4 linked regions of the Homo sapiens genome follow. The protein of the gene in region 2 purifies or fractionates together with the protein of the main gene of each other region. This does not show direct contact. Each region holds a gene or a part of one and is shown on either strand. Other genes may lie near its edges.

Region 1 (7,794 bases), on a different chromosome or scaffold from region 2:
TCTCCTACAAAGCCATCACTCTCCTACAAAACCTGCAACCTAAGCATGAAAAGTACGCTCGTGGCCGGGCGCAGAGGCTCATGCCTATAATACCAGCACTTTGGGAGGCTGAGGCAGGCAGATCACTTGAGGTCAGGAGTTTGAGCCCAGCCTGGCCAACATGGCGAAACCCCGTCTCTACTAAAAATACCAAAAAATAATAATAATAATAAATTAAAAAAATAAATAATTAGCCGGGCACAGTGGTGCATGTCTGTAATCCCAGCTACTCGGGAGGCTGAAGCAGAAGGATTCTTTGAACCTGGGTGGCAGAGGTTGCGGTGAGCTGAGATCACACGACTGCACTCCAGCCTGAACCTGGGAAGCGGAGGTTGCGGTGAGCTGAGATAGTGCCACTGCACTCCAACCTGGGCAACAGAGCAAGACTCCGTCTCAAAAAAAAAAAAAAAAGTGTGTTCATTATACAAACACAGTGTCAAGACAGGCCCCCGAGTGCCCACTTTCAACTGGATTGTGGCTCCTTGACTCCTCGCGTGTGATAATTGCCAGATCCCATACAGTTTAGAGACCTTGAAGGCCCTTCCCGGGCTACTCTCTAATGGAGAAGTTTGTACTGTTTGTTACAATCACTCTTGTCAATGCCAGCAGACATATGAAGACTCATGTTCCTGAGATACTACTCTTCCTCTGCTCTGGACATACATCTTACTAAAAGGAGAGGAAGTGTGAAGAACACAGGACTGGGATGCAGCTCGAGAGCCTCCCCTGCTGGCAGCAGCAAGTACTAATTAGCGCTTGGTTGCGGCTGAGTAGCAAAAGTCTAGCATCCGTGTGTCTGTATGTACGTATTCTTGTTTTTGATCCCGCTCTACTAAGGACTTTATGACAAATTAGCCACAAGTATCTCCTGGACAAATTTAGCTAAGTCAGAACAGCTGAGTTGAACCTGGCCTTTCCTAGCTCCAAAAGCCCACTGGAAAGTGTATGTGTTTTTTCCTTGGTGGTGATATGTGCCCCTTAGGGTCAACGGTCACGTCCCTTTGCAATGCCTGGCTTGGTGGTCTTAGCGGCTCTGAGAGCCCTCATCCCCTCCTCCCATGCCTTAGCAGGGATGGGATGCAGCTCACCACTGATGTTGAGCAGATGTGTGAAGAAGAAGGACTGTTTGTGAAAGTCCTCTATGGCGAGGACAATGGGTCCATCCAGGCTGCTCCTCAGGGTCTTCTTGGAGCCGCTTTTGTCTGCAATGAGTGATTCAAGCATGGTCCGCACCATGTACAGCTTGAAAAAGAAAGCAAGATGAGAAGGTCAGAAGCTGGCCCTCTACCCCGGGGAAAAAGGTTGCTTCATGTTGTATTTATGTATTTTTTTTTTTCTGCAGATGTCTGCTCTTAAAAAGCACTGTCCTAAGGAAGCACCAGTTTAAGGTTTGAGAAATAAATGTGGAACTGTGAAAACCTTCATGGCCAACCCGGGCCCCGTGGCATCCCTGGGCCAGTGGACCTGGCCACACCAGGTAGCTCCCTGCTCTGCTTGGCCAAGGGCGTGTATATCAGAGGAGAACCTCATTACGTGTCACCCTGGAGTCACTCCCTGCTTTCCCAGAGGGCCACAGATGCCATGGGTGGAGCACTGGACTGGGAGTCAAAAGACCGGGGTTCAAGGCCAGGCACTGCTGCTGATTTGCTGTGTGACCTTAGGCAACAAAGCCCCCACTCTGGGCCTCAGTTGTCTCATGTAACATGAGGGGGTTGGACCAGATGCCTTCTCACACCAGTCCCTTTCAGCACTAACATTCTGAGGAACTGAGAAATGGGATAAGATCAGAACGAACCCCCTCCCACACCTGTTCCTGACCCTCAGCGTTTTGACCCCATGGCTGAGCGATGGCGCCCCCTTGGTGGCATCAGCTGCACTGCACAGCCTGCTGAAGTTCAGGGTGGAAGGCGGGTTAACATTGGTACTTACACAGGAGGCTACTAGACAATTAACTCCCGCTTACAGGGTGCCTTAAGTGCAAAGGATGCAAGTGCGGTGGGGTGGTTCTCTTTGCTAATCTAGATCTCTCCACATCATTTGTCTGTGAATCTTAGGGCTGGAAGGGGCCTTGAGGAGCCAGGCTAGTCCATTCCTGCTGCCTCCTCGAGAAGGGTACCCAAACCAACCCAGCCAGGCGGTGTGATACCAGGGATCGGCAGCCTCTTCGGCCCTGTGTGCCACCAGTGGGGTGAAACAAAGCCCTCGGGGACCACTGGCAGGCCTAAGACATAGATAGGAGAGAAGGAAGAGGGAATGGGAGGGCAGGAGAGACAGGGAAGAGGGAGAGAGAGAAAGAGAGAGAGAGAGAGAAAAGCAAGAGGTATTGTATACGGTGGGAAAGCCGCCGCGACTGCCGGGGGCCACCTCTGAGACACTCCAACCTCCCAGCAACCGCGTTCGTCTTCGCTGCCTCTGGAGCTTCCCTGGGATCTCCCCCATCACATGCCTGGCACTGATGCGGGTAGAGCAGCCACAGAAACGTGTGACCCACCATCCCTGCCACAGGGCTTCCTTTGTGGGAAAGCAGCCACAGTGGCCGTCAGTGCCTCAGACAGTCCCCCATCTGCAGCCCTGTTGGAGGGCCTGTCTCACCATCCCTAGGAGCCGAGAAGCACTCTTCTCATGACGGCCTCTCAAGTCCTCAAAGGAAGAATCCAAGTCTAATCTGTTGTGGGTGCTGTCCAGTTGATATCCAACTCTAATTCTCTGAAAACTGGTTTCACCCATAAGAAGGTGAACTTTTTTCCCACGTACTTTTACTTAACAGAGCATTTAATTCACCAAAACAGTCTCTATCCCAACTATGCAAGATGCCCATGTCTACTGTGTCCTGAAGACCGTACCAGAGCCCTGGGTGGGTGTCAGGAGACCTGGGTTCTTGTCCCACCTCCACCTGGGACTCACCTTGTGACTTGGACAAGTCACTTCCCCTCTCTAGACCTCAGTTTCCCCATCCGCAAGAGAGGGGGAGGGCCTAGGTTTCTCTAATAGCGCTCCCAGCTCTGGTTGTCTACGAGTCTATTCAACATGTCTGTGCCACCTAGCATGACCTGGTAGAGGTTGGGGGTGAGGCGGGATTTACTGCTGGTGACCCACCCCTCTCACATTATCTACACAAATACTCCTTCCTCTCCTCTCCTTTTCTCTCTGCCTGTTAAGTCCCCTCCTCCTCCTTTCCAGTGTCTTTTGTGCCTTGTCTGTCTCTTGCTCACTCATGTCTTAAAATTTACAGAAACACTTGAAAGCCCTGCTCAGTGTCTCCCGGACCTCAACCCTTGATATTACACAGAACTGTTTGCAGACGCTTCCTTGGGGCGTTCTACAACCAGCCGGTGAGATTGGTGCAAACTAGCAGAGGGCTGTGAAGCCAAGGGGAGTTAAGATGACCCTGCCGAGAACCCACCTCTCCCCTGCCCCAGCCCCCAGCACAGACACAGACGCACACACAGGGAGAAGGGTCGGGGGTGGGCCTCAGATGGTCCATCTTGGGTGACTGAGAACAGAGAGAGGCTTAAAGGTCATGGGAAGTGAGGCCTGTGAGACCCTTAAACTTGCAATGAGAACCATCTGCTTTTTCCAGTACATCAAAAATATTACCAGAAACTACCTATCCTTAAGTAGGTAGCAGGGATTTAACGAAGATGCCCAGATTATTGACTTTTTTTTCTGTAACGTTATGACTGCTCTGGATAAGCCACGGGCGACCTCTTGTGCAGAAGCTCTGGCTGGCAACTCTGAGTGTTTCCAAATACTAGACTTCCTCTAAGGGGACAAGGGCTTTCAATACTTGCACTTTTGGAAGGATGTGGAACTAAGGAATATTTTGTTAGTAACACAATCTCATCCAAAGTTTTCATTTTACAGAGAAGATAATCAGAGCTCAGAAAGCTCAAGGTGCTTGCCCAAGATCACACAGCAAGTCAGAGGCAGAACTTTTAGGGGAAAGGGCCAGGACTTATTAAAGAGGGGCAGCATAGATGCATGCAGATAGATTCCACTTTAACCTCCTCCTCCACTTTGGAATCTATACTTCATAGGACTAGAAGATAGCCAGGCAAGGTGGATGTGGTGGTATTATCCCCATTAGCCAGTTTAAACAACTGAGGCACAGAGAGATCTGTAAAGTGCCCGAGGTCACACAGGTATCTAGGACTAGAATCCAGGTCTCCTGAATCTTAAGCCAGTGGTCCTCCTTCCTATATCAAAACAAGATGGCAGAATAAGACCGGAGCAGCCACTCAACCCTGCCCCTCCTGACCGACGGCTCCCAGTCCCACTGCCCATGGCCAGCCATGATGATCTACCATAGCCCGGCTGGCCTCTGAGTCAACGCAGCTGGCCTGTGCCTGGAGCCGCTTACCTGTGTGCTGGATGGCCCCACAGCACGCCGGGGCACCTTGATATCAAATCCACCTTTGGGGTCCTTCTCCCCTCTCAAGCATGGGTCATTAGGGGGCTCTCGCCCTCCCTCCCAGTCACAGATGGTCTTTCGAATTGCCTGTAGGACGCTGGGGAAGGAAGAACTAAGACTTAGACCAGGTTTCACCATGGGAAAACGTCACTACAAGCTTGTGTTTCTAGGGCCCGTGGTGTCCCAGGAACACCCACATTTGAATTCTTGGGGTGCTTGTAAAGCATGCTCATTTCTGCCCCAATTCCAAAACTCTGGTTTAACAGATTTAAGGTACAGTCCAGGAATCTGTGTTTAAACAAGTGTCCTACATGGTTCTGATGTCCAAGGGATGTCTGAGAACTCAGCTCTGAGCCCATCGAGTGAGACAGAACTTGTGTGAGGCAAGAGGTCTGTATTTCCTTTCTGGTTATAGGGGAGTCTCACCGGTCTTATGAAATCTGTGTGTGCTTAGTTTTCATAATAGCTTAGATGTGCTGCATACTTACTCCATGCTGCATGTGCTTAGGTCTATATATGGACCATCTCATTTCATCATCCCAACAGGCAGCAGGTAGCATTATAATCCCCATTTTACAAATGAGGAAAACTGAGGTTTGGAGAAGGTCAGCAACCTGACCAAGTTCACACAGCTAGATAGCAGTGGATATGGACTTCTAGAGATGAAGGCTTAATTCATCCCAAATGCCCAATCTCCTAAAGAGCCCTCTGGAGCTTGCTGGAAGGACCCATGTGTGTTCAGTGGCTGAGCCAGGACATCCTCTCTGATGGGTACCTGGCATGCTTATGTCTGATATGCTCCTGAAGGCATCTGAAAACCCACCTGATGAGGACATTCTTCTTCTTCCGTACCGCCTGCCGCAGGGGCTCACGCAGCGTCACCTGGGCGAAGTCCTGCAATGCCGCGTAGATGGTGTTCCTGATGGCCTGGTTGAAGACGCTCTCCATCCTGCCCATGAGCACCTGCAGGCCTTTGATCATGGCGATCACCTGGGCAGGAAGAGGCCAAGGGTCATGTTCACCATGTCCAGCACACCAGCTGTCTACTACCCATCACCGCCCTGCCAGGGGAGGCGGGGAGTGAGATGTCCAGAGGCATGAGGCCAGTGCTACTCAAAGTGCCAGCGCATGGCTAGGTAAGAGATGTGTGCCAGAATGTACGTATATCAGCACTTGGCTTCATTCATTGAGAAAGTCTTGCTACAAAACACAAATGTCAGCTCAACTAACAGCATTCTTCGCAATGCAACTGATTTTCATCCTCGCATGAGCTCCCAATTTTGTTGTTCACTGCTGACAAATAGCAGCTGGCCCATGGGCCACAATTTGAGCATTTTGAGAAGTGCCTTGGCTTTTGAAGGCCTCTCCATAGACCAGGCACTCACAGACAACATCAAATAGAACTTTTTTAACATAAAATTTTCTAAAGAATTTTTACAACCTTTGTTTTTGAAACCGTTTGGCCAGTTGCTGCTTGAGTTTATAAAATCAAAACTTCTCCTGCAGAAGTCATGGGGGAGAATGCCTCTACTCCCCTATTTCCCTTCTCCTTACCCTAACTCACTTATCTGTTTGGAGAGATGGGGATTCAGGCACGTGTGATGAGAGGAGCCTGGCCTGACCTTGGCTCGCTCTTTTGGGACCTGCCTGCCTGCAAGTATGTGGCCTCCCTTCTAGGTTTCTGGCTGCTTCTTGCAGTAACCATCCCCTGCCCATCCCGAGGAAGGGAGGCGTGTATCTATGCAGCTGCTTTGCCTATTACCTAGTGGCAAGTTTAATGAGATGTAGGAGGCATAGGAACACTGGTGTGGCCTTGGGTGAAAACCACATTCTCTAGTCTAGCTTTACCAGCAGTAAGTCTGAGCCTTTGACTCCATTGGCCTCTAATATTAATTTCTCAATTGATTCAGAATTCAGAGGGAAAGGCATGTGGCAGATCGTCCACCTCACAACTGCCACACAGATCACACCCATAATGGCATGTTCCACCTTCTACACCAGACTGGAAATACACAGGACAGGGCCCAGCTATGCTGTGCACGCCCAACTGCCAGTGTCTGGGTCCATGGTGGGCAGACACATTTTCTGTTGAAAAGGAACAAATAAATGAATGAATGAGCTCAGACCCTAAGGCTGTTTTTTTCTCTAAAACTTAAAGGAAGAAAAAGAACATTTTTAGATAGAACTGGTATGAAAACAACTCAGGAGGTGATGGTTTTCATTGGCACCAACAGTACAACAATTTTGTTGGTGATGAGCTTTAGTGCAGAGAAATAATGGGAGAGAAGCATTAGAGGACTGTTAGATCATAACAGAATCTGGGCCCCTGGCTACAGATATAACTAGGAGACATTAGGAAAAAGGAAGGAGTAAATAATGAAGATGTCTCAGAATGGCTCCAAATACAGAGGAGTGGGCAGGCCTGTTGGATCTAAAGGAAAAATCTTTACAACTCTAGACAAGGCAAAGATTTCTTAGCTGAAACCCCCAAATCACTAACCACCAAATAACTGACAAATTGGACTTCATCAAAATTAAAAACAGCTGCTCTTCAAAAGGCACCCTTAAAAAATGAAAAGGCAAAGTCACTGATGAGAAAAAATATTTGCGACATATATTTGACTGAAGACTTGTGATCTAAAATATGGAATGAATTCTCACAATTCCATAATAGGAAGACAGAAACCCGATTTTTTAAAAATGGGCAAAAGATCTCAATACTTCACAGAGGAAGATATATGAATGGGATACAGGACAGGACAGAGGTAAAGGGAATTCCCAAGATAATAAATAATGAGGAGAATCTTGGATCAGTGGCGGGGCTGGTCTAGAGACAAACCCATGCAGATTGGAAAGAAGAGAGCTTGTGGAGGAATGCCTCCAAGAAAAAAAGAATAATACCAAAACTCATCAAATGATGACTGTGATGGACTATTTTGTAAGGAGTTTTACATTTTGTTGGTAGGTTTGGGGTTGCCTTTTTGATAGACTCATAGAAAACAAAATAAAAAATACAGTATTGCTAATTCTATGAAGAACAAAAAGTTGTGCAAGAAAATAAATGGATTCACATTAGAGCGTGTGGCTCAGTGATGGACAACAGTTACTTGGTTATAATAATAATAAGGTAACCATTGATTTTTACCAAAAAGTGTAAAATTACCACGATGGGAAGATGGGGGAAGGAAACCAGGTGTGTTGCAGGGATGGGAGGTAGGAAGGAGAGAGCTATATCCTCATTTCCCAAAGTAGAAAATCAATAGAAAATGTCATAAACTGAAAAACCAAGAAATAGTCTCATAAGCCTGTTAGAACTAGGGAGATAAATACCACAAGGAATCGCT
Region 2 (7,629 bases):
CGCCACTGCACTCCAGCCTGGGCGACAGAGTGAAACTCTGTGTCAAAAAAAAAAAAAAAAAAAGAACACTGAGCAAAAACACTTATTACACATGATAAACAGATTTTTTTCTACTTTATAGGCAAAAATTACATTTCCACACAATAAAATGAGTGTTGGGTTAGTTAACTCGAGCTAGTGGCTAAGACATGATGCTATAATAAGGCTAAATTGGCCAGGTGCGGTGGCTCACGCCTGTAATCCCAACACTTTGGGGAGGCCAAGGCAGGTCGATCATCTGAGGCCAGGAGTTCCAGACCAGCCTGGCCAAAATGGGGAAATCCCGTCTCTACTAAAAATACAAAAATTAGCCAGGCATGGTGGTACACACCTGTAGTCCCAGCTACTTGGAAGGCTGAGGCAGAAGAATCGCTTGAACCCAGGAGGCGGAGGTTGCAGTGAGCAGAGATCGAGATCGCGCCACTACACTCTAGCCTGGGCGACAGAGTGAGACTCTGTCTCAGAAAAAAAAAAAAAAAAAAAAGGCTAAATTGACCATTTGATCACTGATCCTGTGAATTAACTTTCATCTACTGCAGGGTCCAGGCAGCATCAAAACCCCTGCTGGTCAACCAAATGTACAGCTGGATCAGCACAAATCCACTGTCACCACGTTCTATTTATCAACTTTCCCAACAAATCAACAAATCATATAAGAGCTATCATCCTGAGAGTGTACCAATTATATACCTAAGGCATCCTAAAATAAATGATAATCAAAAAAGAGAAAGTGTAAAATATACTTCAGATGCTAAACTGAAGAAATAAACTATTTTAAAATCTAAGTTCATTTCTATTAAATTAATATTAATCAATATTTATGCTTTAAATTTTAAAATGTCACCACACTAAATTTTGAGTCCCATTGCTAAAACAGAGATTGATAGTAGTAACGTTTTTCTCTTTTCAACTGAAGGAAATGTATAAAATATTTAAAAAGAAAACTGCTGATGCCTTTAACCTTTCAGCTTTAATAATCCTTATCCTTTTACCTTTATATAGCAATTATAACTTAAGAGGAACTTGTACCTTCAAATTACAATAAGAAATCATCTTGCAAAAGAGAGAGAAATCTGTTTATTTTTTATTTCTTACTGGTAATAATTGCAATCCACTTTTCCACCCTCAGTTTCTCTTCTGACCTGCAACTCTTTCCCCATAATATGCTGCACAAGGCAATGGAATTACCACTTCATTCCTTTAGGTTTTGCCTCTACTAGAGATTGTGAAATCCCTCAGAACAGCATTGCTTCCTCCAGTCCTCCTTGGTACCAGCAGTGCACTACAGAGTATAAATTAACTACATGGTATTAATTTCCTCCAAGATCAGCCTCTCCTACTAGGTATGTACCATCCACCCCTCACACAGTTCTAGGCCATAAAAGACTTTCAATTTTAGCGAAAAATTGAGCAAGTGAATCTTTTTTTTTTTTTTTTTTTGATATGTAGTCTCACTCTTATCGCCCAGGCCTGAACCTCTGAATCTTTTCTACCCCACTTGTATCAGCAAAGTACATTACAAGTGGACATTTGTATTTTTTTGTATTAATCTTGCCTACATTCCTTTCCTAGTAGCCATAGTCAACTGCCTCTTTCGAAGGAACAGGTTTATACAGTGGTTCGGGTCATTCTCAAATACAAATGTTGTCTACAAGATAACAGTATGTCTAATCAAACAAAATCTCACTTCCGCGATCAACAATGTGGCCATTACAAAATTTATGAACCTATAAAATTGTAACACCTGTTTTTTAAAATTTACACTAAGACATGAAAATGCTTTCCTATATAGCTAATGTTAAGAAAGGTGCCTCACGCCTATAATCCCAGCACTTTGGGAGGCCGAGGTGGGTGGATGACTTGAAGTCAGGAGTTCGAGACCAGTCTGGTCAACATGGTGAAACCCCATCTTTACTAAAAATACAAAAATTAGCCGGCTGTGGTGGCGGGCGCCTGTAGTCCCAGCTACTCGGGAAGCTGAAGCATGAGAATTGCTCAAACCTAGGAGGCCGAGGTTTCAGTGAGCCGAGATCGCGCCACTGCACTCCAACCTGGACTACAGAACGAGGTTGTGTCTCAAAAAGAAAAGAAAAAAGAAGGATCCCTGGAGAGATGGAGGTGGGAGCAAGAAAAAAGGAAAAAAAAAAAGACTGTGAAGAAACAGTTTAACATATTGCTTCCATTTCCATCTTTATCCCAAGAGAATTTAAACGGGAAAGAAAAAAAATGGAGGCAGAACCCATAATTCAAAATAACCATAAAAAAAAAAGCAAAAGATTTTAGATTTTGCAAACTGTGCCTTTTAACCTGCTATCCTTTCAAGTAATTTTTAAAGAAGGATTTTTTTAATCCACAGAATATTTTGCTTCATCCAGGAGCAGCTGGATCTCATACCATCCGGTATCCCCCGCCTCCATACACACGCCCCTACCACTATCAGCCCTTGAGCCAAACGATCCATCACGGTAAAAAAAAAAAAAAAAAAAAAAAATTAAACCAGGAGGTTCATCTTCCCAATTCTCTCTAAGAAACAGTCATAGTCTGTCCTCCTCCCACCCCCAGGAAAACTGCCTATTCTAACAGAACTAGGAGGGAGGGGGGAATCAGCTCATCATCCTTCTCCATAGGGAAAAAAATGGCATTAACTTCCAACAAGAAACTGCTGCTCTTCTACCGTATCCCCTTTAGAACATAAAATATTAAGAAAGGGTTTCTGAAGCATTCACAGGAACAGAAAACTGAAGCCTGAAGCACTTCACTCTGCAGCAAGATAACCCCTTAAAAATCATCCAGAATTTGGGGGATGGAGGTAACCCGTCAACACCCGCGACACCCCTACCCTAAGGTGGGGAGCAGGATTCCGTCAAACAGAAAATGCCACTCTCCGCCCCCTCCGCCATCCGGAACGCTGACCGGCGCGGAGTGCGGGGGCGGCCGAGGGCGGGAGCGGCGAGGAGGCGGGACGCGACACACGCACCACGCCGAGAACTGCTTCACCGCTTTTTTAAAGGTTTTTAAAATGCAGTTTCTCCAGCCGGAGAATTCCCACCCATTCACCAGCCCCAGCCCTCACCCAGCTCCCCACCCCCATCGGGGGCTCCGCTGGGCCGTGTCCCCGAGGCGGCCTCGGCCCCACGCCCCGAGGCGCGCGGCCCCCGGCGGGGGGGTCCCCGACGCGGCCCAGCTGGGGATGCTTCGCACCTGTATGTAGTTGTTCTCGCAGTAATCGGCCACCCGTTCCAGATTTGTGTAGCTGTCGAAGAGGGCCCGGCGGCCCCCCGGGATTTCCTCTTCCAGCAGCATCTGCAGCTCCGCCATCTTCACATCCTCCTCCTCCTCCTCCTCATACAGGTCGCAGAGGGAGCGGCGGCCGCAGCGCCAAGGAAACCCAGGACCGGGAGAGGAGGAGCGGCGGCGACGGCGGCGGTAACTCGGAAGGAGCGAGAAACAGCCCCAGCGCGCGACAGGGGAGGGGGCGACGGGGGCGGGGCGCGAGCCGACGGACTCCGAGGACGGTCACCGCGGCGACGGCCGGCCGGGCGCGCGCACGCGCGCTCCCTTCCCTCCGCCCCCGGGAGCCCGAAAAAGATTCCCACCCTCGCCCGCGCCGCCGGCCCCTCCCCCACTTCCGGCGTCTCCTAGCGACGGCGGGGGTAGGGGCCGGGATGCGCGCGGGAGTTGGTGGTGCAGTTAACCCTTCCGCCGCCCGCCCGCCGCTGGAGCGGCTGGAGAAGCCCCCACCTCCCGGCGGCCTTTGTTAGCCCGGCGGGAACACACCACCCTGCTCAGCTGGCTTCCTGCCGGCTCCCTCCGGGACTCATCTCGGCTCCGTCCCCATGGAGGTCATCGGCCTAGGGAACTTCTCGAGGCTTTTCTCCCTCTGCTGCTGACGGGAGGCCGAAGGAGGGCACAGCCTCCACTCTTGGGACCCTCCTCTGTGAAAGATCACACCTCAACAGGGCAGGAATAAAACTTCCACGCAGCTTTCAATGCCACCTGACTTCATTTTTCTCAGATTTGACCTCATCCTCTTTGTTGCAGTGAATTGCAGTTTCCTAACCCCAGCTTTCCTGCGCCCCTGCCTCTTTGCACTTCCCCACTAACGCTGTTCTCCCCTGCCAGATTAGCCCCTTTCTCTCCTGGTTTGCGGTGCCGTGGGCCTCAGCTTTTTATGTTTGCCATTTCTATGATTCGCTTCCTCACTCATAACCTTTTCTGTCATTTCTCTAATGCTATCAACTTCGCTGTCCTTTTTCCTATTCATGGATTCAGTATTTAAAATTTTGAAAACGATTTTGCTAGTAGTAATTGCCTTCTTCACAGGGCTGTTACATAGATAAAATCAACGTTTATTGTGAAAATACCTTGAAAAAACATTAAGTGCTACAAAAATTCAAGGCAGATAATTTTCCTCTTGCAGAGTTATAATTCTGTTTTTATTCTCCAGATACTGTGTCTTGTTTTCCTAAATCAGACTACCCCACACAATGTAATCTGGAAAAACTAAAACTCCTGACCATTGCTGAGATATGAAGCCATGACCTTTATTTGTGCTGTGGAAAATCAAAGTTGATTCCAGGCAGTACCATCTTAGACTTGTGTAGTTAGAACAAGATCCATTGTTTCAACACTTTTCTTAATCTGGTGATCTCTTGGCCCTCCTACAGTGAATTTTTTTCATTCAGATGATGAGGAAACTTATACTTTCAAAAAAAAATCACTTTAGGACGGGCGCGGTGGTTCACGCCTGTAATCCCAGCACTTTGGGAGGCCGAGGCGGGCGGATCACGAGGTCAGGAGATCGAGACCATCCTGGCTAACACAGTGAAAACCCGTCTCTACTAAAAATAAAAATAAAAAAATTAGCTGGGCATGGTGGCGGGCGCCTGTAGTCCCAGCTACTCGGGAAGCTGAGGCAGAAGAATGGCGTCATCCTGGGAGAAGAGCTTGCAGTGAGCGGAGATCGTGCCACTGCACTCCAGCCTGGGCGACAGAGCGAGACTCCGTCTCAAAAAAAAAAAAAATCACTTTAATACCATATCATTACAAATATCTGGAGCAAACCCTAATGTTATATTGGCTTCATGATACATACATTAGCAGAATGTATGAGTTTTCACTGTGGAACCTAAATTAAAGGATATTGAAAATGTTGGTCTAGTCCAACTAGTTTTATTCTTAAGCACTTTAACCATCTTCTGTAGTAGTGGTTCTCAAACTTCAGTGTGAGGAGCTTGTTAAAAATGAAAGCTGCAGGGTCACACACACTAAGATTCATTAGTTTGAGAGCATGAGTGATGGAAATGAGTAGTTATTTAAATGACACATCAACTTGCTTCAGTGAATACGACATATGAATAATCAAGTGAATAAAACAAATGTTAGATGAAGCAAACTTTTCTTTCAGACTAAACTTCAATAGATCAAAAAATAATGTTGAAGAAGCTCATCAGGTGAGTTAAATGGTAGACAGACTCTTCCCCTATCATTACTTATTCCCACCCAGCATTTTTTCAACTATGGCTTAGCAATTAGCCTAATAAACAAATTTCCCTCTGGGATGTTTCGTCATTCTAGAAATTACCTAGAAAAGATTCTAGTATTTTCTCTAATTAGTGACAATCTCTTTGGACCTAGTTTCCTTATCAAGAAATCAAAGGGTGAGGCCGGGCACGGTGGCTCTCGCCTGTAATTCCAGCACTTTGGGAGGCCGACACAGGTGGATCAGCTGAGGTCAGGAGTTCGAGACCAGCCTGGCCAACATGGTGAAACCCCGTCTCTACTAAAAATACAAAAATTAGCTGGGTGTGGAAGCGGGTGCCTGTAATCCCAGCTACTCAGAAGGCTGAGGCTGGAGAATCGCTTGAACCAGGGTGGCGTAGGTTGCAGTGAGCCGAGATCGCGCCACTGCACTCCAACCTGGGCGACGGAGGCTCTGTCTCGAAAAAGAAAGAGAAATCAAAGGGTGAAACTCAGGTCAGGAATTCTGAAACTTGAGTGTGGTTTGGAATCACCTGGAGGGCTTTCTAAACCAGATTGCTGGACCACACCTCCAGAGTTCTTTATTCAGTTGGTCTGGCCCAATTTATTAATGTAGGTTTAACAAGTTCCCAGCTGATGCCTATGAAACGGCCCTTCTGGCTCAAAAAGTCTATGATTCCAATTTCTGGCAGCTGGGAAACTCCATCTAGAGAGGTGCTTTGTACACAGCAGAATCTGAGATGCAAGGACATAAACAAAACACTTTGCTGCCACCAAGATTGATTAAGCAAAAAAGGATAACTACAAAATCTGTAAAAGAGTATATAGTTATTAGGTTCAAGGATGAGATTGTGTACCTCATGAAAATCTTCCACTACTTCTCCATTGTTTAAGCTGATGAAGGTAATTGAAATCTGTTCAATTTTACAGTTTTTCAGATGAACTGATATGATAAAAGTGCATTTTCAAGCCCTTAGAGAGTTACAATTATAATAGTTGTACACACTTCACATGAACTTCTTATAAACGTAAATAAGCAAACTCATTGCTCTAAGAAGCCATATTTAAGAGCTTTAGTACAAGAAGATTTTCAAAATTATACAAATCTAATATACCCATGTATGAGGTTGTGAAGTTATAACCCATCTTAAAAAAATATCTTTCTTAAATTTATTCCAGTGTTTTAAAAATTATTAGCCCCTTCTAAGTCCCATGTAATAGAAGCACATCTTACCTTTAAAAACCATAACTTCTAGCAGGACAGGGTGGCTCGTGCCTGGAGTCCTACCTACTCAGGAGACTGAGACAGGAGGATCACTTCAGCCCTGGAGTTTGAGACCAGTATGGGGCAACATAGACTTTTGTCTCTGAAAAAAAAATTAAAAATGCATAAAAACAATTAATTTTGTATATGATTTAATAGGCATCTTTTTTTTTTTACTTTTTTTTATTTTTTATTTTTAGATGAACATCTCACTCTGTCACCCAGGCTGGAGTGCAGTGGTGCAATCTTGGCTCACTGTAATCTCTGCCCCTCAGGTTCAAGCAATTCTCTTGCCTCAGCCTCCCTAGTAACTGGGACTACAGGCACCCGCCACCACGCCAGGCTAATTTTTGTATTTTTGGTAGAGATGGGGTTCCACCATGTTGGCCAGGCTGATCTTGAAATCCTGACCTCAGGTGATCCGCCCACCTCGGCCTCCCAAAGTGCTAAGATTACAGGTATGAGCCACCACACACATTCAGCCTATCTCCTTTATAAGAACATGTTGCTGCTCATTTCAGGCTAAAAATGGGTCAAACAAATATCAAATTACAATATATAATCGTTATATACTGACTGACCTCCCTCATATCTTGGAAAATTCAAAATGTTCACGTATTCATCAGATAAATTCAGGATGGATGCACTATGGAGAAAAGACCAGGGAAACAATGCTCAAGGCAGACACTAGTTTGAGGATTATGAAATCAATCCAGCTAAGAAATGATGGTGATCTCCAGGGAGAGGAGATGCAAAGAAATGGATGGAGTAATAAATATTTAGTAGGTAAAATCAATACAGGTTGGTGAATGGTTAAATATGGAAGTTAATGCAAGACAGGAGTC
Region 3 (7,794 bases), on a different chromosome or scaffold from region 2:
TAAATACACATTAATGTATTTGAGATGAGAGCGCAAATTGTTCTGTTTTAGGGTTTTTTTTTTTCCCTGTTAGGGATACATAATTAAAAGAATATGGAGATCACCGATACAGGAAACACTGAAAGTCTTGCTCCTGTATTTAAGAACATAATTATTATAATGATTCCTCTGATTCCACAAGACCTATAAGAATGATAGTATTATTTTATAAGCCATCTTTAGTCCTACCAAGTAGGCAACTGTCTCTAGTAGTACTTGTCCTCATTTTGGACATTATATATATATTCCTGGAAAGTTGTTTAAATAAAAAACAACTGTGAATTCACTTATAATTCTAAAGAAAAAAAATGATCCCAAGATACAACGACACTTGAGTATACTGAAACTGATAATAAAACAATAGACATTCCTTCGAATGCACATATCTAATTCTCCTTAATAAGCAATGCAAGAAGAGCCAGTTATATGCATCTAAGTACTCTTTACATAACAGTATTCCAGGCATAAAAACTCAGGCTTAATTTTCATTTAACTGAGAATTCTCCATAGCTACTGGCAATAATAAGGCTATGGCTAAAAAGAGCACATGCCTAAGCAACACAGCCAACTTATTTTTAGAGTAGCCCAGACCTAATTTGATAGAGTTTGTAATACCAGTTTCAAAGTCCTCAATTTTATCTTTTATACAATATTTTTTCATAAATGTTTATTTGTCTCATTATTTAAGAAAAAATAAACCTGGATCTGAAGTTAGCAATGAAAATAAAAGCAGTGACTGGTCTGGGTGGATTAAACTATTGTGAAAACAAAATTATAATACATAAAAAATACATAAATCTAAGATAATAATAAAAATGAGGAAAAAGAAGTAGGTAGAAGAAAGCCTTAACAAATATATCAAGGGTTGGGGGGATTGCTAGTCATATCTTATCTGAGATAATGCTGTCAGAACTAAATTTTAGAATTTGATTTAAGCCTGCCCTACCAGACCTTTAAATTCTAGCAATGGACTCCAAATCATAGCTCAGACTCCAACAGTATGAAGTCAGAAATCCTAGCCAGGCCTGAGAGCGTAGGAGACACAAGTAGAAGAATGAATAAAAACGGAAAGGCTGGCCGGGCGTGGTGGCTCAGGCCTGCAATCCCAGCACCTTGGGAGGCCAAGGCAGGCGGATCACTTGAGGCCAGGAGTTCGAGACCAGCCTGGCCAACATGGCGAAACCTCACCTCTACTAAAATTGCAAAAAAATTAGCTGGGTGTAGTGGCACATGCCTGTAATCCCAGCTACTCAGGAGGCTGAGGCACGAGAATCACTGAACCCAGGAGGCAGAGGCTGCAGTGAGCTGAGATTACACCACTGCACTCCAGCCTGGACAACCGAGCAAGACTGTCTCAAAAAAAAAAAAAAAAAAAGGAGAGGTTGAGTAGAAATAAGTGAGGTTTAAACAGACTGATGTCAAGATTTTAGAAATTACAGTGACTCAAGAAATATATAGTGCATATATTTCCTGTACACATAGATACTAGATATTCAGTAATGTATTTATCTAATACACTACCTACTACTTAACAACTGACCAAAGAATAAATGAACTTTTAAAAGATGTGAAATGTTTGTATGCTAATAGGTTGCTATATTTTTTCCCAGAACAAGTATTAGTTAATTTGGCTACCTTTGTTCCTGAACCAGGGTGGCTGGTATTTTTGGCAGATATCGAATGAGGGAAGGTATTCTGGAATGCAAATGCAGAGGAGACAGGATAACCAATCCCACAGGTTGGGTAAGTCAGTCTACCATCAACCTAAAAATAAAAACATAAAGATGATTAAAGATGATAAATTAATTCTAAATAGTATTTGTTGATCAGGTGGCATTAGCATCTGTTATAATAACTAATAATTAAGAGAGCACTATCTCAGACGCCAGTCTTGTTTATCATGCCACACAACTCTGCTTTATTATCTACCATGGGGCTAGGATAACTTTGAACTAGAGGGCTTTTCAAGGTAGGTGTGCAAGCTTGGATAAAACAAACTACTGGGCCTGCCTTTGTACTAAGTTAAAGCCAAGCTTCTGAACCAACTTGTTTCACTCTAAGTCTCCTAAAAAAGGGGGGAATGGGGGAGTCTGGAGATCAATAGGCCAATCAGAGATAAAATAAAACTAATTTTCTGTCAGACTGCATAAAAACAAGATCAGTGTTCTTAAATGGACTAATTGAGACAGTAATTGGTTTTGCCACTAATTTTCAATATACTGGCACCACACATTAACCAACGTTATGAAAAAGTTTATTTTTATACTGAGACCAGTTGTAACAGAAATCTTGAGAAGCATTTGTGCACACTAATGGATGCACACAAAAAAACACCTTTCACACAGCTATCATCAGTCATTCAAATTTTAAGCCGGACAAAAAATCTTTTTTAAGTTTGTAATTCAGCCCCAGGCACTTCTTTCTGCACCCTTCTCCAATTTAACAGCAATCTTTCCCCTTCTTTAGACATCCCGTACTCTGACTTACCAGAGTAGATTAGGTTAAAAATTCAATTAGGAATCTGAATTTTAAACCTTCTGCCAATGTCCTGTAGCCAAGGACCACCAGGAACCCATGTATAGATATACGAGCTAGATTTATTGCTCCTTGCAACAAGGGAAACTGCACACCATGAACAAACATGGGTATCTCCAAAAGTGGGTATTAAAAGGGACTTATTTATTGGATTTAGGCACATGTTAGGTGATTTAAGAAAAAGTTTAAGTGGTGCTTTGCTGTGGATTGGAAGCTACTGGGAAATGGGGATAAATGTATGACTGGGTATCTGAATAAATCCTATCTAATAAAGCAAGAGGAATGTATTAAGGTCAAAGCTGTAATTAAAGCAGCAGCAGCCATTCATGTTAGCCAGGATATGAGGATGCTTATGGGCCATATCTGTGATTTAGCAATGTTCATATTTTTGTCTGTATTCAGGCATGATTATGAAACAGTCTTGTTTTTGTATTGACAGAGTCACAGAGTAACCTTGCCTGATGTTAATATTCCATGAAATTGTTGTGTTCAACAGGAGAGCCCCAGGCCTATGTGCGGATGCTAGGTAAGCTCCTAGCAGCACCTAGGCCTAACTATCAGATAGTACCAAACCACCTCTGAATGTAAGAAGCTGCTTTTCCTATTCTGCCTTTTTTCTGTTTGAGATAGAGTCTCACTCTGTTGCCCAGGCTGGAGTACAGTGGTGCGATCTTGGCTCATGGCAACCTCCACCTCCTGGGTTCAAGCAGTTCCCCTGCCTCAGTCTCCCGAGTAGCTGGGATTATAGGCATGCACCATTGCACCCAACTGAATTATGTATTTTTAGTAGAGACAGGGTTTCACCACGTTGCCCAGGCTGACCTCTTGAACTCCTGACCTCAGGTGATCCACCCACCTCAGCCTCCCACCCAAAGTGCTGGGATTACAGGCATGAGCCATCGTGCCCAGCCTCCCTTTTTTCTCAGGTTAAAAAAAAAAAAAAAAAAGCAGGGCTGGGCACAGTGGCTCACAGCTATAATCCCGGCACTTTGAGAGGCCGAGGTGGGAGGATTGCCTGAGCCCAGGAGGTCAAGGCTGCCATGAGCCATGATCCCACCACTGCACTCCAGCCTCGGCAACAGAGTGAGGTCTTGTCTCAAAAGAGAAAAAAATCTGGTCCTGGGAGCTAGAAAGTTTATATCTCATAACCAGTTTCTTGTAGAATCTAAAGGTGACAAGCCTGCTAATAGGACTTTTTTCTTTTTTACTTTCTTTTCTTTTTCTGATAGAATTCAGTTTAGGCTTAAGCCTAAACCCTGAATTCTCTCTTCTTCAAGTCTCCTAAATGTTTTACGTTATGTGTTTTCAAGTTTTTCAGTATATTTGGTATTACTTTAGTTAGCATTGAAAGATTTCAATATCCAGTCAAGACTTATAAAGAAGTGTGCTCTTGGCTGGGTGCGGTGGCTCACGCCTGTAATCCCAACACTTTGGGAGGCCGAGGCAGGCAGATCATGAGGTCAGGAGATCAAGACCATCCTGGCTAACAGGGTGAAATCTGTTTCTACTAAAAATACAAAAAATTAGCTGGGCGTGGTGGTGGGCGCCTATAGTCCCAGCTACTTGGGAAGCTGAGGCAGGAGAATGGTGTGAACCCGGGAGGCGGAGCTTGCAGTGAGCCGAGATCGCGCCACTGCACTCCAGCCTGAGCGACAGAGCGAGACTCCATCTCAAAAAAAAAACAAAACAAAACAAAAAAAAGAAATGTGCTCTTGAAACTCAGCCTCTGTTCAGAGCAAGTGTGCCTTTGTTCCACTTCCAGGGGCAACTTAAACTCTATTTCAGTGCAATTGTAGGACTCCACTTTGTATTGGTATCAGCACCTTAAATCATGGAAACTTCCTAACAATCTGGAAATACTTTTGTTTCAGGAAATTCACTAAGATCACTCACATCTTGTTTTAAATCTTACCACATTCAGGTTAGGAGAAATTCCACTTCTGATTGTGTTGCTGCTGGAATGTGCAGGCGGAGTAGTAGAAGGTCCCAATACATCTTGCTTTCTCACTAGCTGATTTTCATTTAGTTCTTTATTTAACCACGTGATTACTTAAATAAAAGAACAAGAAGCAAGGTAAAGAATATTGACTGTTTATTTTTCTAATCATCTTAAACATTTAAAAATTATATTAAGATTTTTAAATTATAAGTTTTTACAACTACCTGACATCACAGGAGAGCAATATAGGTTCACCTAAATTTTTGTCATTAAAGTTTCTTATTTTAGAAGCTGCCACATAGGACTCCTTATTGTATTACTTTCCGAAGCACATATTTCTGCTAGTCAAGCAACTCTTTGAAAGATTTCACTTCTAGAATATCTTACAGTTTACTTAAAATTCACAATCTTATGTATGATACCCAGTAGTATAAACTGAGAAAATGTTAGTTAAAATCTTATTTTTATGTTTTGTTTTCAAACAATTCATATTGTTATTATTAGGTAAACACAGCTATTAAAAAAAGGAATAATGAAGAATTTAAACAATAAATTACAGTCAACATTTTCAACAGTTTTAATTGTGGGTTACTGACCTATGGGATATGGTTTTCTTTATAAAGATGATAACTCTTTTACTGGGCAGATGATATAAATTTATTATAGAAAAGGCATTAAGACAGTATATTTAAAGCAGAAATTACTTATATATTGGCCAATGTCTACTTTTATGAATTCGAATAAAATTTTCAGGTTAAGAATAAAACTACAGCCGAGCACGATGGCTAACACCTGTAAACCTAAACGCAGCAATCTGGGAGGCCAAGGCGGGTGGATCACTTGAGCTCAGGAGTTCAAGACCAGCCTGGGCAACATGATAAAATCTCGTCTCTACAAAAAAAACCCACAAAATTAGCTGAGTGTGGTGGTGCACACCTTAGTCCCAGCTACTTGGGGGGCTGAGGCGGGAGGATAACTTGAACCAAAGTGGTGGAGGCTGCAGTGAGCTGAGATCATGCCACTGCACTCCAGCCTCGGTGACAGAGTGAGACCGTGTCTCAAAAAAATAAAAGAATAAAACTACAAACCTCATTTACATTAACACGTAACATACTTACACTTTTCATTATTTTTTAGAAGTTGTTTGCTTTCTTCAAGTTTTTTAACTGTAGCTTCTAATTGTTCTTGTAATTTGCATACCTGAAATATATCAATCATCACAATAAGTCAAGCAAAATAAAGGTTAAATAAAAACTGAAGAATGTATTATTATTAACTAAATAATTACATAAATGGTTACTACTACTATTATTAAATGAGAATAAAGGAATTAGCTCAATTATGTAATAAAATATTTACATGTGTATACAAACATAGACATACATGAGCAATCAAGGTATCTGAATCATGATAACTAACTTTCCAAACTGAAACAGGTTATTACCATCTACTCAATCTAGTCATGTTCTTTTGTTAAAAAAAAAAACAAGACCAAAGCCATTTGTTAATGTAACAAAGCATAAATTTTTAAAACGAGGAAAAAATTTAGTTACAACATAAAAATTTAAAATATTAACTACCTCTTGCTCTTTAATTCGAAGAGACTGTCCAACATCTTGTAATTCCTTTTGTTCCTTTTGTAATTTTTCCTCCTTCTCAGCCAAGAGTTTTTCTTGCTGAATAGTAACTGTATTCTTCAATTTCAACTTACCCATTAAAGTTTTCAGATCCCCTTGTAACTTCTTGATAATTTCATTTGCCTATAAAAGAGCTTCATATGTATATTTCTATGTAATTTAATGAAATACTAGTCTATAAAATTTTTAAAACAAACCTTCAGAAGTTCTGCAGATAATGATTTTATTGTAGCTTCAAGCTTTCCTAGTTGTACTTGATTTTTCTCACCATTTTCTTCTAAAACCACCTGATATATTTTTTAAAAACATGAATAATTAGGGCATTTGTGTTTACTTATAAATATGATTATCAATTTCTGAGAAAAATTTAAAAGTAGACCTTTTGTTCCTGGATTGTATCAAATGCCTCTTTTGTTCTTAAAACAAGCTGGTCCTTATCCTTGATTTCCTGTTCTAAAACTGCCACTTTTGTTTGTAGCTGATTAACGTGCTTTTCTTTCTCGTGGCATTCAACATCTAGTGTAGAATTCTCTCTTCGCAAAGAGAGGACTTCTTGCTTAGTCCGCTGTAGCTCCTAGAATGGGAAAAGAAAGAAATTAAGCATTATGAAAAAAGGAAGCTGCCTCATCTGGTTATTTATAATTAAGATGTCTAACATATTAAAAAAAAGTCTTTAATAATTTTAAAGTTTTAGTACAGATTTTTTTTTAAAAGCATAAATGTCTTTCTAATGGTATAGTAGCATATATCTGGAATATAATTGTAAAATATTCTACTATCTGATTCAATCATATCAAGGGAAAATAATTCTAATTTATGAATAAATTACAGTAACTTTAAAACTTTTAACAATAATTTTCTGATGTCTCCACAACTGATTCCAAGGGTAACCACGGGTGAGAGCCGCCACAATGTAGACTTAACATTTTTCTTTGTTGCTTACATGTACAGATTGTTTTTTAAAGGTTGATACTCTGCAGTTTATAATCTACCTTCTTCACGTATTACAAATATCTTTCTATGTCAATAAATGTTAACATTTCCAGATCTCTCTGTTCACTCTTTCAAGCAAAATAAACAATAATTGTTCATTAAAAATAGATTTTTAAAAAATCTACAATAGATCTCTTCCCAATCAGCTAATATCAACCCAAATGCTGCTGGTATATGAAAGCCCAGGATACAATATTCCTAGATAGTTTTAGTTCTTAACCAAAGTTTCCAAAAATAATTATACAGTATTGTGACTATAGTGGTTTTAGGAGCACAAACTTTAGTATCAAACAAAATTCAAATCCTGGCTCTTCTACTGTGTGATCTTGGTAATTACTGAAACTCCCTAAATTAAATCTCAGTTCCCTCATTTGTAAAACAGAAATAACAAATACTTAATAAATTATTTCATTTAACCTTCATAAAAATCCTTACGTAAATTGCCTAGCATTTTGGCTGGCACACAGTAAAACTCAATAAATGGTAGCAATTGTTATTTTTAGGACACTAATGCCTAAAAATTGTTACTTAAAATAGGTAACTGAATACTCAGCAGTTAAAAAAAAAAGCTCCAAGAACTAACAATTTGCAAGTCTTATGAAAATCTTGGAGGAAATATTTTCATTAGATCATATAAAAATCAATGCAATG
Region 4 (7,794 bases), on a different chromosome or scaffold from region 2:
GCTGGGATTACAGGCATGAGCCACCACATCCAGCCAGAGAAGAAACGTTTCTAATACAAGAAGTGAGTTGAGACTCTGTTCTTTCATGAGATGAATCCCGTGATCTGTCACTTGACCTTCGTCTATCTCTTGATCTCTCATGTCCCTCACTGGCAACATGAGACTCATTTTGGTGTGGTTTACTCCTGTATTCCCCTTTCAGTGTCCACACAGGATCAGGGCAAAGGCCAAGGCAAGCAACACCTCCACTTCCTCCTCAGCCAGATCCCTCTAGGGGATGGCTGTGGCTACTAGAGCTGCCCGGGCCTTTATTTTATTTTATTTGTTTTTTTGAGACGGACTCTAGCTCTGTCGCCAGACTGTAGTTCAGTGGTGCGATCTCAGCTTACTGCAACCTCCACCTCTCGGGTTCAAGCGATTCTCCTGCCTCAGCCTCCCGAGTAGCTAGGACTACAGGCGTGCGCCACCACGCCCAGCTTATTTTTGTATTTTTAGTAGAGACGGAGTTTCACCATGTTGGTCAGGCTGGTCTCAAACTCTTGACCTCATGATCTGCCCACCTCAGCCTCCCAAAGTGCTGGGATTACAGGTGTGAGCCACCGCTCCTGGCCAATATTTTATCTTTTAAACAAAACTGAGTGTGTCTGGGGAATACAACTGGATATTCATACACAAAAACATATAACTGCACCTTTACCTCACACATACACAAAAACCAACATCAGGAAGATCAAAAACCTAAACATGAAAAGCTAAAAATGATAAAGGTTCTAAGAAATAATAAGAGACATATCTTCATGGTCTCAGAGTATCCTTAAAAAGGACACAGAAAGCACTGAAAAAAATTGGTAAGTCTGACTACATTAAAATTAAGAATTTCTATTATCAAAAGGGTACCAATAAGATGAAAAGGCACACCTCAGATGGGAGAAGAAATGTATTTATATATATAGACAAAGGGCTAGAAGCCCTGTAAGTCAAAAATACAAGCAATCCAATATCTGAACAGGTACTTCACAAAAGACAAAATCCTAATGGTCAGACACATTACAAAAAATTCAATCTCAGAGGTTAATAGGAAAATACAAAATTAAACTCACAAAGAGATGGCTGCAAAATACACACTAGGTGAGCAAAAATAATCGTTTTTATTTTTTAGTACTTAAAAGTGATTGTAAAAAAAAATACAATAATTACCTCTGAGTATTATTTAGCTTGCATTGGATCTTCTGAAAATAAAAATCCTCTGAAGAAATTTTTAAAGTTTTCTGATACTTACCAACAAGCTGTACTCTCCCTGAAGACAGAAGTGTTGGATCGTCCTTCCTGACATTATTTACTGAGTCATCTACTAGCTCTTTAATGTGATCAATTCCTATGACTTTTCCAGTACATCCAACCTGGAAAAGAGAAAACAATTCAGTAGCTCATTGGGCTAAATTTGTTTTTCTAAAGTATTATTGAAGTTTTTCCTTATCGAAAGTCATATTCTACAAAGAGAAAACAAAAATAGCTTAAGGCTTCTATAGATTGCTAAACACTCAGTTTATCATAAATTATTTACCATATATACAACTTTCTCAACTATCACTCTCATTGAATAAAACTTGTAATACTAAGAAAAATTATATCTTTCTTAGATTAAATCTAGAACTTTGAAGAAAATTACCAATATTTAATAGTAGTACAATAATTTTTTATTTAAATTCCATCTAAAGTATAACTTTAAATATTAAAATGTTACATAAAGAATTTGACAGGGAGGAATTTCTTTTTTTTTTTTTTTGAGAGAGAGTCTCGCTCTGTCACCCAGGCTGGAGTACAGTGGCACGATCTCAGCTCACTGCAACCTCTGCCTCCCAGGTTCAAGCAATTCTCCTGCCTCAGCCTCCTGAGTAGCTGGGACTACAGGCCCCCGCCACCATGCCCAGCTAATTTTTTTGTATTTTTAGTAGAGACAGGGTTTCACCACGTTGGTCAGGCTGGTCTCAAATTCCTGACCTCGTGATCTGCCCGCCTTGGCCTCCCAGAGTGCTGGGATTACAGGACTGAGCCACCACACACCCTGCCTCCCGCCTGATGGGAAGGAATTTCTACACTTGTTTCTACTGCTTTTAGTAGAAAACATGAAAATATATACAGTGGCTCACACCTATAATCCCAGCACTTTGGGAGGCAGAGGCAGGTAGACTGCTTGAGCCCAGGAGTTTGAGACCAGCCTGAGCAACATGGCAAAACCCCATCTCTACAAAAGAATACAAAAACTAGCCAGGTGTGGTAGCATGTGCCTCCTAAGTCCCAGCTACTTAGGAGGCTGATGTGGTGTGAGGATCACTTGAGCCTGGGAGGCAGAGGCTGCAGTGAGTTGAGATCGTGCCACTGCACTCCAGCCTGGATGACAGACTGAGACCCTGTCTCAGAAAACAAACAAAAAGCAACAACAACAAAAATCCCTTCTTTGCATATTTATTTGTAAATTAAAATATTAAGTATAAATGTTTCAAGAAAAAATATAAAAATTTAAAAAATTAACACATAAAGGCTTTGAAGTCAAACTATCTGGGTTCTTGTCTAAGTGTCATCACTTACATACATACATACCTTGGCAAGTTAACCGTTCCTTCTTTTTTTTTTGAGATAAAGTCTCGCTTTGTTGGCCAGGCTGGAGTACAGTGGCGTGATCTCAGCTCACTGCAACCTCTGTCTCCCGGGCTCAAGCAATTCTCCTGCCTCAGCCTCCCAAATAGCTGGGATTACAGGCGTGTGCCACCACACCCAGCTAATTTTTGTATTTTTAGTGGAGACGGGGTTTCACCATGTTGGCCAGGCTGGTCTCGAACTCCAGACCTCAGGTGATCCACCTGCCTCGGCCTCCCAAAGTGCTGGGATTACAGGCGTGAGCCACCACACCCGGCCTATCATTCCTTGTATGAATCAGGTTCCTCAGTACAAAATGGGGAGGAAAAAGGCATAAACCCCATCATAAAAATGGGGTAGCACTTAGAACACAGGCTCTAGTGCTTAAAACACAAAGTACTTTCACACATGGTAAATGTGTGAAAAACATTAATGCCATTTTATGAAAAACAACTCAGAAACCAAATGATTTTTTAAAATGAATACATCCTCTAAAACTATAAACATGTCAAGTATAGAGAATGAGTCATTTATTAAATGGCATTTCTAACCTTAAAAAAAATCACTGATATCCATTAATGAGGACTTAACCTCTACAAAATGAGCAAAACATCTGAGAAAATATGAGTCCTTATTATGTGCCAGGCATTGTTTTAGATGTTTAGGATACCATCATGATAAAAAAGAGCAGACAAAATTTCCAACTCCCTGGAGCTTACATTCTAGTAAGTCTGCTGATTATACATTTATAGCAAGTTACATGGATTCTAGTCCAAGGTGGATCCACAACTCCCAATTTAACTAGATCAGAATATTCCAATCTGTCCTCCAGGCACGATATTTCTCAAATCAAACTGATGTGATGATCTAAGCAATGATCAACCTTTACTCCAACATATATTAGTGGGTCCCCAGTTAATACTCTGGATAGCCATTGACCAGATAAGACTCTGATGAGAAAAGGCAGAAGTATAACAAGGCATTATTTTTCTAAGAGCACTTTTTCTAATGCAGAAGTTTTACCTTCATCCTGGTAAATCTGCAGGAATGTTTAGAAACCAGGCTCATTCTGGGCAGGGACAGTGGAGAGGGTGCTGGGAAATGAGTCCCCTGGGAGACGGGGCCCAGCTACGATGCTAAATATCTCAGGCTCCTGAGTGACTGGATTTCCCTGGGACCCTCAGACATGTCCCAGGGCCCGGTGGGGAAACTGAGGCCTGTACAAGGAAGTAGAATTCTGAGTTGTCGGGGCTAAGCCTGACCCCCTCTCCATGCTAAGCCCACCCCCCACACTGTGCCTCAGTAGGTTTTTGTTGTTGTTGTTGTTGCCCAGGCTGGAGTGCAGTGGTGCAATCAAGGCTTACTGCACCTCCACCTCCTGGGCTCAAGGGATTTTCCTGCCTCAGCCTCCTGAATAGCTGGGACTGCAGGTGCTCCACCATGCCTGGCTAATTTTTCTATTTTTAGTAGAGATGGGGTTTCACCACGTTGGCCAGGCTGGTCTCGAACTCCTGGCCTCATGTGATCTGCCTGCCTAAGCCTCCCAAAGTGCTGGGATTATAGGTGTGAGCCACCGCGTCTGGTCCCTCAGTAGGTTTTAAGGAGCCTCCAGCCTTCCTTCTCCCCTTCTGGGCCTGACCAGCTATACTGCTCTGTCTCCCCCAGCCACATGCCCCACCAAGTACTGTAGAGAGTCCCCTACCCAGGGTCCCTGCACCATGAGATAAGGTGAAATACCAACTGTGGACCAAATGCAATAAAACCTCTGTTTTTAAGAAGAAAAAAAAAAAAAAAAGAAAAGAAAACCAGGCTTATTCTATTCTTTTCTGCCAAATCAGAACTTGGAAGAAGGTAGTTTGGGAGCTACTGGCCACCATCTTGTGATTACAAGGGTAGAGCTTACCGGATAATGACACCAACATGTGGAGGAAAGTAAAGCCAAATCAAGAAACAGAGAGAACCCTATCGTCAATAACAACATCTGCTCTTCTAAATCCAGCCACACAACAGACCGTATACACCCCTAGACTTTTCTGTTATATGAACTAAATAAACTCCCTTTTAGCTCTGCCAGTTTGGGTTGCATGTTCTGTCACTTGCAACAACAACAAAATCCTAAGTGATGCTCATTCCAACTGCTATCCTAATAGAATTAACAAACAAATAAACATGAAAACCACTAGTTAAAAAAACATACAGCCAAATCATATAATATTCTTCTGTTGGGGCCAGAGTGAGAAATAAAACTCTTACCATACGTGCAAAACATGCAGTAAGGATTCCACTTCCAGATCCTACATCAAGAGCTTTAGCTCCTTCATGCAACTGATCAAATAGAAGTTCTAGCGCATATGCATGCTGCCAAAAGAAAACAAAATATTCATTAAGACTAAAGTACACACATCATGGTATATAAATAAAGTTGCCAACTTTCTACCAATTTTTCTACTATTGTCATCTACCAAGATAACCAAGTTATCTTGGCTATCTGCCCAGGTATTACTTAAGTAAACTGTTTGATTAGAATTCTTACATTCAGATCATGTGTTTCAGTAATTTTAGACCTCCAGTGTGTGAATTTTTAACTTTTAATTAATTCAGTAAAAAAATTAAAAGATTTATAAGTGAAAAGTCTCCACCCTACTCCCATTTCCAACCATCCAGGTTTCACTCTGTAAAGGTAACCAATATTACTAGTTTCTTGTGACTCCTTCCAAAAAGGAAGGAATAGATTCTTTGCATATATAAGCAAATACAAAAATACAAAGGCTAATTTTGTATTTTTAATAGAGATGAGGTTTCTCCATGTTGGTCAGGCTGGTCTCGAACTCTCGACCTCAGGTGATCCGCCCACCTCGGCCTCCCAAAGTGCTGGGATGACATACATAAGCCACCACACCCAGCCAGTATTCTCATTATTAAAAATAATCAGATCAGGCTGGGCGTGGTGGCTCAGGCCTGACATTCCAGCACTTTGGGAGGCTGAGGCAGGTAGATCACGAGGTCAGGAGTTCAAGACCAGTCTGGCTAAGATGGTGAAACTCCATCTCTACTAAAAATACAAGAAAATTAGCTGGGCATGGTGGCAGCCACCTGTAATCCCAGCTACTCGGGAGGCTGAGGCAGAGAACTGCTTGAACCCGGGACGGGGAGATTGCAGTGATCCGAGATCATGCCACTGCACTCCAGCCTGGGCTGTAACAGAGCGAGACTCCATCTCAAAAAAAAAAAAAAAAAAAAAAAAATCAGATCCAATAGCAGTAAACACATTTACTACCAGATCTTGGTTGATAAAAATACCCATCCATTAATCTATAGTGATAAATTAATACATCATTCTATACATATATAAATGAAAAATAGGGAAAACCGTTCCCAACAAATATATAGATACATAATGAATGCACATAGAAAAAATTAAGAAAATCAGCCTTTGGGCAGCCATCTCAATAATAACTGATTGATTCAGGTAAAAATCATAAATGGAAGCTAAAACTAGTGGACTAACATTTGAAAAATAAACAGGATATTTACATAATCTCAAAGGGTTTGCCCCAGATAATTATTAATCACAAAAGGAAAAATAGTAATTTTACAATGGAGTTCAGAAAAAAGTTCTCCAGTGGAAAAACTGGGTCAACACTACCTTAATCAGATGATCAAAGTTAACACCACAATTATGGGACACACTGACATCAAATGCCTCTGCTAAGATACTTCATTTCTGGGATATGCCAGGCAAAAATGCATAACCTATATTGAATTATGAGGAAACATCAAACAAACCCAAATTGAGGGACATTATACAAAATAAATGGCCCATATTCGTAAAAATTTTCAAGGTTTTCAAGGTCATAAAAGAATAAGGAACCATTTCTCAGTCATTCTTTAAAGGAAACTAAAAAGACATGACAATCAAATAAAACTCACAATCTACTATTTTCTTTTCCTATAAGGAATATTATCAGAATAATTGATGAAATCTGAATAAGGTCTATAAATTGGCTAATAGTGTTATATCAATGCTGACTTCCAGATTTCAAAAATTGTACTATGGGTATGTAAGAGAATGTCCTTATTTTTAAAGGTAAAGAGCATTGGCCGGGCACAGTGGCTCACACCTGTAATCCCAGCACTTTGGGAGGCCGAGGCGGATCACGAGGTCAGGAGATCGAGACCATCCTGGCTAACACAGTAAAACCCCATCTCTACTAAAAATACAAAAAATTAGCTGGGCGTGGTGGTGGGCGCCTGTAGTCCCAGTTACTTGGGAGGCTGAGGCAGGACAATGGCGTGAACCCGAGAGGCGGAGCTTGCAGTGAGCTGAGAACGTGCCACTGCACCACTGCACCCCAGCCTGGGCGACAGAGCAAGACTCCATCTCAAAAAAAGTTAAAGGTAAAGAGCATTATGCCTGTAATTTACCCTCAAAGAGCTCAGAAAAACGGAAATATAATACACACACATACACACACACACACACACACAGAGGAGAGAGGGGATAAAGGGAGAGAGAATAAATGATAAAGCAAATGGTGAGATTTGCTTTACCAATGGTAAGACTGTGTGGACAAAAGTACACAGGAACTGTACTATCTGCATAATATTTCTGTAAGTCAGAAATTATGTCAAAGATTTAAAAACATTTGGGCCGGGCATGGTGGCTCACACCTGTAATCCCAGCACTTTGAGAGGCCGAGGCGGGCAGATGACCTAAGGTCAGGAGTTCAAGACCAGCCTGCCCAACATGATGAAACCCTGTCTCTGCTAAAAATACAAAAAATTAGCCGGGCGTGGTGGCGGCTGTAATCCCAGCTACTGGGAAGCTGAAGCAGGAGAATCGCTTGAACCCGGGAGGTGGATGTTGCAGTGAGCCAAGATGGCGCCACTGCACTCCAGCCTGGGTGACAGAGCGAGATTCCGTCTCAAAAAAAAAAAAAAATTATAACTATTTTATCAATGAAAACAGCCAGCTCCCGCTCCCGCTCCCTCTCCCTCTCCCTCTCCCCACGGTCTCCCTCTACCCACGGTCTCCCTCTCTTTCCACGGTCTCCCTCTGATGCCGAGCCGAAGCTGGACTGTACTGCCGCCATCTCAACTCACTGCAATCTCCCTGCCTGATTCTCCTGCCTCAGCCTGCCGAGTGCCTGCGATTGC

The links.
Region 1: the proteins of ABI2 (region 2) and CYFIP2 purify together in Homo sapiens (affinity purification with mass spectrometry; 3 studies listed by BioGRID and IntAct, with this or other methods). This does not show direct contact.
Region 3: the proteins of ABI2 (region 2) and SASS6 purify together in Homo sapiens (affinity purification with mass spectrometry; 2 studies listed by BioGRID and IntAct, with this or other methods). This does not show direct contact.
Region 4: the proteins of ABI2 (region 2) and PCMT1 purify together in Homo sapiens (affinity purification with mass spectrometry; 3 studies listed by BioGRID and IntAct, with this or other methods). This does not show direct contact.

Annotation. Positions count from the first base shown.
Region 1 is NC_000005.10:157,317,408-157,325,201, reverse strand, and holds part of CYFIP2 (cytoplasmic FMR1-interacting protein 2), read right to left. Parts: intron 5,441-7,794; coding exon 5,274-5,440; intron 4,548-5,273; coding exon 4,400-4,547; intron 2,261-4,399; coding exon of another isoform or gene 2,186-2,260; intron 1,282-2,185; coding exon 1,128-1,281; intron 1-1,127. UniProt on the Homo sapiens protein: Involved in T-cell adhesion and p53/TP53-dependent induction of apoptosis. Does not bind RNA. As component of the WAVE1 complex, required for BDNF-NTRK2 endocytic trafficking and signaling from early endosomes.
Region 2 is NC_000002.12:203,324,243-203,331,871, reverse strand, and holds the start of ABI2 (abl interactor 2), read right to left. Parts: upstream 3,479-7,629; 5' UTR 3,358-3,478; coding exon 3,241-3,357; intron 1-3,240. UniProt on the Homo sapiens protein: Regulator of actin cytoskeleton dynamics underlying cell motility and adhesion. Functions as a component of the WAVE complex, which activates actin nucleating machinery Arp2/3 to drive lamellipodia formation.
Region 3 is NC_000001.11:100,101,281-100,109,074, forward strand, and holds part of SASS6 (spindle assembly abnormal protein 6 homolog), read right to left. Parts: intron 6,725-7,794; coding exon 6,530-6,724; intron 6,438-6,529; coding exon 6,348-6,437; intron 6,274-6,347; coding exon 6,094-6,273; intron 5,714-6,093; coding exon 5,632-5,713; intron 4,624-5,631; coding exon 4,487-4,623; intron 1,804-4,486; coding exon 1,675-1,803; intron 1-1,674.
Region 4 is NC_000006.12:149,787,155-149,794,948, reverse strand, and holds part of PCMT1 (protein-L-isoaspartate(D-aspartate) O-methyltransferase), read right to left. Parts: intron 4,996-7,794; coding exon 4,891-4,995; intron 1,401-4,890; coding exon 1,280-1,400; intron 1-1,279. UniProt on the Homo sapiens protein: Initiates the repair of damaged proteins by catalyzing methyl esterification of L-isoaspartyl and D-aspartyl residues produced by spontaneous isomerization and racemization of L-aspartyl and L-asparaginyl residues in aging peptides and proteins.